2 separate regions of the Homo sapiens genome follow, and region 2 is linked to region 1. Evidence: fine-mapped expression QTL. A gene starts in region 1. The other region holds a variant in brackets. All regions are shown on one strand. Distances are from middle to middle. Region 1 holds the start of ZNF582-DT (ZNF582 divergent transcript). Region 2 has its middle 5.9 kb from the start of GALP.

Region 1 (2,913 bases):
GGCAAAGGGGAACCAGTGGTCCTTTCCCTCCCATTTCCCCTAAACATCCAGTGGTTCTGTTTTGCTGCAAATGCAAGTCTAAGACAGGGATGCTGAGGGCTGTTCTAGTGACTGAGACCCACATGTTACCTCAAGGACAAGGAGGGCTTCCCTCAAGCCAGGGAGCATAGAAGGCCTGCATCATTTGCATAGCCCCAGCCTAGAATAAAGCCTTTCCAGGACTAGGCCATTTAACTCTCTCCTGCAGCAAATATAACACCTTTGAAAGTCTACCTGGCTCTTTTCCCAACCGCCAAATATACAAAAAGCTCTACAGCCCAAACTGAGGCTTTGTGCATGCCACTTCATGGAGCATGCCTTGCATCAACAAATGGGATAGAGTTGGAAGGAACAGTAAGAGACAAATTACACACAGCACGCCCAGTGCTCCATTATCAGCACATAAATGTGTCCTTCCATAGAGACACAGCAGTGCACAAAGCTGCATGTCCAATAATATTTGCTAAATAGGAGAACTGAAAATTAGTACGTAAGTAGGCAAGTCCACAAGTAGCCAAGAGGTTGAATCATTTTTGGCACAGCCATATAATGGGATGCCAAGTGACTATCAAAAATGACTATCAAAAACTGACAAGCAAAGATATTAACTACTGAATCCTTTGAGAACATTCAGCAAAAAGAAGTCAAACTCACTAACACACAGGCTAAAAACAAAACAAAACAAAAAAATTGGAAGAAAAAACACCCAAGTATTCGCAGTGTTGTCATTTAACCAGTTCTTGAGCTCACTGTTAAACAAGAAGTACTCTGTAAAGGAGTATATAAGGTGCCTACTGCATTACAAACATTTGGTTCTAAGTAACGTGTAAGTGAAATAATTATGAATGTTGCTTAATATGATGTAATAGGCAGCTTTTCCTTATTATGACCACTTTTATAAGCATTATTTGTATTAACTGCACGATATCCTATTTACAAAGGATGGCCTGTGATCCACTCAAGTGTTTCCCCATTGCTGGACATAGAATTTGAACATATAAAATGTTCCCAAGTATAAGTTTTTCTAAACTAGCGGTTCTAAGTCTTCTGGGGTCTTGTAACTCTCTGAGAACCTCATGAAACAAGATTTCCTCTCAGATTAAAAAAAAAAAAAGGCACGCATAACAGTGAATGCAAAACATCCGCAATTTCAGGGGGTCGGAGACCCCTGCGCACCCACCTAAGGGGTCCATGCACCTGGGCTATGAGGCTGGAAGCAGAAAGGGGGCGCCAGAAAGCGCACGCCGCGAGGGCCGGCGGGAAATGTAGTCTCACGCCGGTAAAGCCACAGAGCGACGATGAGGCGAGACGTCTGCGTTCTTCTCAGGCCTGAGACCCAACCGGCCCGGGCACCAGCTCCTGCTGGACCCCAGAGCGCCTGGAAAGCTCCGGAACCTCTCACCTGCCGCCTCCTCGGGTCCAAGTGCCACCGCGGCCGCGCCCCCGGCAGCCCAGGGCGCGCTTCCACCACGGTACCGGTGGATTCGCCGTGCGCAGCCGGAAGATGGCGCAGACGCACAAAGCACACCGATGCTGCGCCATGATAGGGCCGGCGCCGCAGTGTCTTCCGGGAAACATAGTCTTTAGGCGTAAAGGCAGCAGCCCGGCCTTGAAGCCGGATCTCGCGATGTTTCAGGGTGAGCCGGACGCAGGCGTGCCTGCGCAGTGCGCGGAGGAGTGCTGTTCGTGTGTTCGAGTCCCTGGGTTGCTTCCTGGGGTCTGTGGTGCTGGGTGTGCTATCTGCGTGTGATTCTCTAGCGAGAGATTGTGGGCGAGTGACCGAGTGGGCAAGGGGCCGTCACTGTGTGTGCGTGATTTTGACAGTGTGTGGTGGTAGCTTCTGACTCCGCGTGGGTCGTTGAATGTATGACTGGGACCGTTTAGCGGTGGATACACAACTGTGTGCGGCTGTGGAAGATTGCCTCATCCGTTACGTTCCCATTTCCGTGGAACAACAGTTTTACCAGAAGGTTTCGAAGGAACCTTAAAGTTTGGAAGCGTAAGAGTTTATCTGGTAACTAATTTTAAACATTACATCTATGGTGAGTTAAATGTGGGTTATGAAGGAGAACGCAAAATAAAAACGTTATAAAGATGTAAAGGAGTTTTATGGGGCGGCATCTCTTGGGCAAATATCAGACCGCCGTAGGTAGTTGTTAATTCTCTCTTGTTTTTAGGCGGCTTTGGTGTCATCAAATGTGAGAAGCCCTGGACTTTACACATCCCGAGCCAGTGTGATCCAGTATGATTGGGAGTCCGAGTGCCAGATGCCGGTCAGGACCTGTTATGCTGGGTCTCAGAATGCGGAAACTCTCCCTGTCCGAGGTGGAACAGTTTGTCCTTGAGTGAGGACTGGAGTCCTGAGTGACTCTTTTGATTTGATCCTGTTTCCCTCAAACCTGGTGAGCTCTATGGTGTAATAAATGGTTAAGAGTGTGAACCCTTAACCATCTCTAAGACTGGAGCCAGAATGCCTGAACTCCAGTCTTAGAGATGTGCCTCGGTCTCCACATTTGAAAGTGAGGATGATTGTGGCATCTAATTCATTGAGTTGTTGGGGAGGAGTAACTGATATGTAAAATAATGCTACTGCTGCTGGATAAGGATGCTAATATGACTGAAGCTAATGCTTTCTTTCTGCAAAGATGCTTTTTCCAAAACACACCATATTGCCTCTTTACACATTCTTCAGGAGAGGGTAGAGGCTGCATTTTCCTTGTAGGTGCGGTGATGTGGTGGAAAGCACACTTTTAGAATTAGACAGATGTGGATTCAAATAGCATTTCAGCCATTTATTAGTTTCTTCGTGCCTATCTCGGTTTTGTTTTGTTTTTTTTTTTTTGTCCATAAAAGGAAGAATGTAATGCTGGGCTT
Region 2 (2,913 bases), 220 kb before region 1:
AACCTCCGCCTCCTGGGTTCAAGCTATTCTCCTGCCTCAGCCTCCCAAGTAGCTGGAATTACAGATGTGCCACCATGCCCGGTTAATTTTTTTTATTTTTAGTAGAGATGAGGGTTCGCCATGTTGAGCAGGCTAGTCCCGAACTCCTGACCTCAAGTGATCCCACGCCTCGGCCTCCCAAAGTACTGGGATTACAGGTATGAGCCTCTGCACCCCATGAGAGTAGATTTTAAATGCTTTCAGTACAAAACGATGTCTACGAGCTGGTGGATGTGTTAATTAGCCCAATTTAATAATTTTACAGTGTATACATAGATCAAAACATTATGCTGTATGCCATAAATAGATTCAATTTGTATTTGTAAATTTAAAAAAATTTTAAGAAAAAAATAAGCAAATACATAAATAAGTAAATAGACATATTTTTAAATGGTGGTCATAATAAATGTCCCTGAGAAGAGGATAGGAAGTCATCCACACGTAGCTGGCAAGAACATTCCAGGCAGAGACAATGGCAGAATGCACTCTCTTTTCCCACTCTTGTCAACATTCTACCTGCTTTTCAATTTAACTAATATCATCTGTGCACCTACAGAAAAAACAAAAGCCAGCTGGGCACGGTGGCTCACACCTGTAATCCCAGCACTTTGGGAGGCCGAGGCAGGTGGATCACGAGGTCAGGAAATCAAGACCATCCTGGCTAACACGGTGAAACCCCGTCTCTACTAGAAATACAAAAAAAAATTAGCCGGGCGCCGTGGCGGGCACCAGTAGTCCCAGCTACTCAGGAGGCTGAGGCAGGAGAATGGCGTGAACCCGGGAAGCAGAACTTGCAGTGAGTTGAGATCGTGCCACTGCAGTCCAGCCTAGGAGAAAGAGTGAGACTCCATCTCAAAAAAAAAAAAAAGAAAAAACAAAAGCCAGCTGGGCACAGTGGCTCACACCTGTAATCCCAGCACTTTGGGAGGCCAAGGCTGGCGGATCACCTGAGGTCAGGAGTTTGAGACCAGCATGGTCACCATGGTGAAAGCCTGTCTCTACTAAAAATACAAAAATTAGCCAGGCGTGGTGGTGCACACCTGTTATCCCAGCTACTCGGGAGGCTGAGGCACAGGAATCGCTTGAACCTGGGAGGTGGGGGTTGCAGTGAGCCGAGATCGAGCCACTGCACTCCCAGCCTGGGCGACAGTGTGAAACTGTGTCTCAAAAAAAGAAAAAAAAAAAAGAAAAAGAAAAAACAAAAGCCATAAAGATACAACTCAGGCTGGGCGCGGTGGCTCATGCCTGTAATGCCAGCACTTTGGGAGGCCGAGGCAGACGGATCATGAGGTCAGGAGATCAAGACCATCCTGGCTAACATGGTGAAAAACCCTGTCTCTATTACACACACACACACACAATTAGCCAGGCGTGGTGGTGGGTGCCTGTAGTCCCAGCTACTCGGGAGGCCGAGGCAGGAGAATTACTTGAACTCGGGAGGCAGGTGTTGCAGTGAGCCGAGATCCAGCCA[T/C]TGCACTCCCAGCCTGGGCAACAGAGTGAAACTGTGTCTCAAGAAAAAAAAAAAAAGAGAAGAAGAAGAAAGAAAAAACAAAAGCCAGAAAGACACAACTCAGCCCACCAACATGGGAGAGCATGTCATTTCCCACCTGGGCGCCTCCGGTGTACACTGTTTCCCGCTTTCCTTCTGATTCAAGGTCACGGGAGGCTGCTGGCTGCTTCTGCACTCTTGTTTTTGTAACTGGATGTCCGGGACCTTTGGAAGGCGAAGGCACCTGCTTATTTCATCTCCTCCCCACCGTTGTCATGGGCCAAACTCCAGGATGTCCTTCCGCCCTGGTTAGCTCCCGCCATGAGTCAGCCCTCTCCTCTCCACGTGCCCCCACTTGAACCACTCCTGTGAATGCAGCGTCAGCATCGATGATGTATTTCACATGCAGCTCTCAGCTTTGGACATTGCGTTGGCTCCCCTTCACTCTGACTCACCTTGACTCTGCACAGAAATGCTCCTGGGAGAGAACGCTGACACTTCTCTTCCTGACTGCAGATTCCCGTCCTGTGGCCGCTTCCACATCTGAATCTTTCCAATAGTGGGATTTTCAGCCTCACCCACCCATGCCTCTTTGAAAAGCTAAGAATGCAACCCCTCTTGTTCAATAATTCAGTTAGGTGTTTCTAGCACATGACCAATACTTAGGTCTTTTCCAGCCCCTCCCATGAACTTTCCCTAAAAAATGTAACTTTCTCAAGTAAAATGGGAATCTTTCTGTGGTGCTGGTGGGACTGAAAACTGGTATGTGATTGTCGAAAGGCAATCTGGATGTGTATACTAAGAATCCCAGAGGCTGGGCGTGGTGGCTCACACCTGTAATCCCAGCATTTTGAGAGGCCGAGGCAGGTGCATCACCTGAGGTCAGGAGTTCAAGACCAGCCTGGCCAACATGGTGAAACCCCATCTCTACTAAAATACAAACAAATTAGCTGGGCATGGTGGCAGGTGCCTGTAATCCCAGCTACTCAGGAGGCTGAGGCAGGAGAATTGCTTGAACCTGGGAGGCAGAGGTTGCAGTGAGCTGAGATTGTACCATTGTACTCCAGCCTAGGGAACAGAGCAAGACTCCGTCTGAAAAAAAAAAAAAAAAAAAGAATCCCAGAATGGTTATACCTTTTGACTGAGTTGCTTTTCTTCTAGGACTTAAACCTAAAGGATTCGTCAGAAATTTGTAGGAATGGCACTAAAAAGGAGTGAACTGTTGACACACACCACAGCGTGGATGAATCTCATGCACTAAGTAAAAGAAGTCAGACTGAAAAGGCTGCACACTGTAGGATCCAGTTTGTATAACATTCTGGTAAAAGCAAAACTTTGTTTTTATTTTATTTTTACTTTTGAGATGGAGTCTCGCTCTGTCACCC

The links.
Region 2: its variant is fine-mapped to the expression of ZNF582-DT in vagina (GTEx, PIP above 0.99).

Annotation. Positions count from the first base shown.
Region 1 is chr19:56,392,001-56,394,913 of GRCh38, forward strand. It overlaps ZNF582-DT (ZNF582 divergent transcript), which reads left to right and starts at 1,676. Exons shown (of 2, transcript NR_037160.1): 1 at 1,676-2,053. ZNF582 (zinc finger protein 582) reads right to left here and starts at 1,534. Exons shown (of 5, transcript NM_001320371.4): 1 at 1,220-1,534.
Region 2 is chr19:56,168,606-56,171,518 of GRCh38, forward strand. No RefSeq gene overlaps it. Among named protein-coding and RNA genes, the nearest start is that of GALP, 5.9 kb to the right of the region's middle. The variant T/C (reference allele first, on the strand shown) is at 1,511.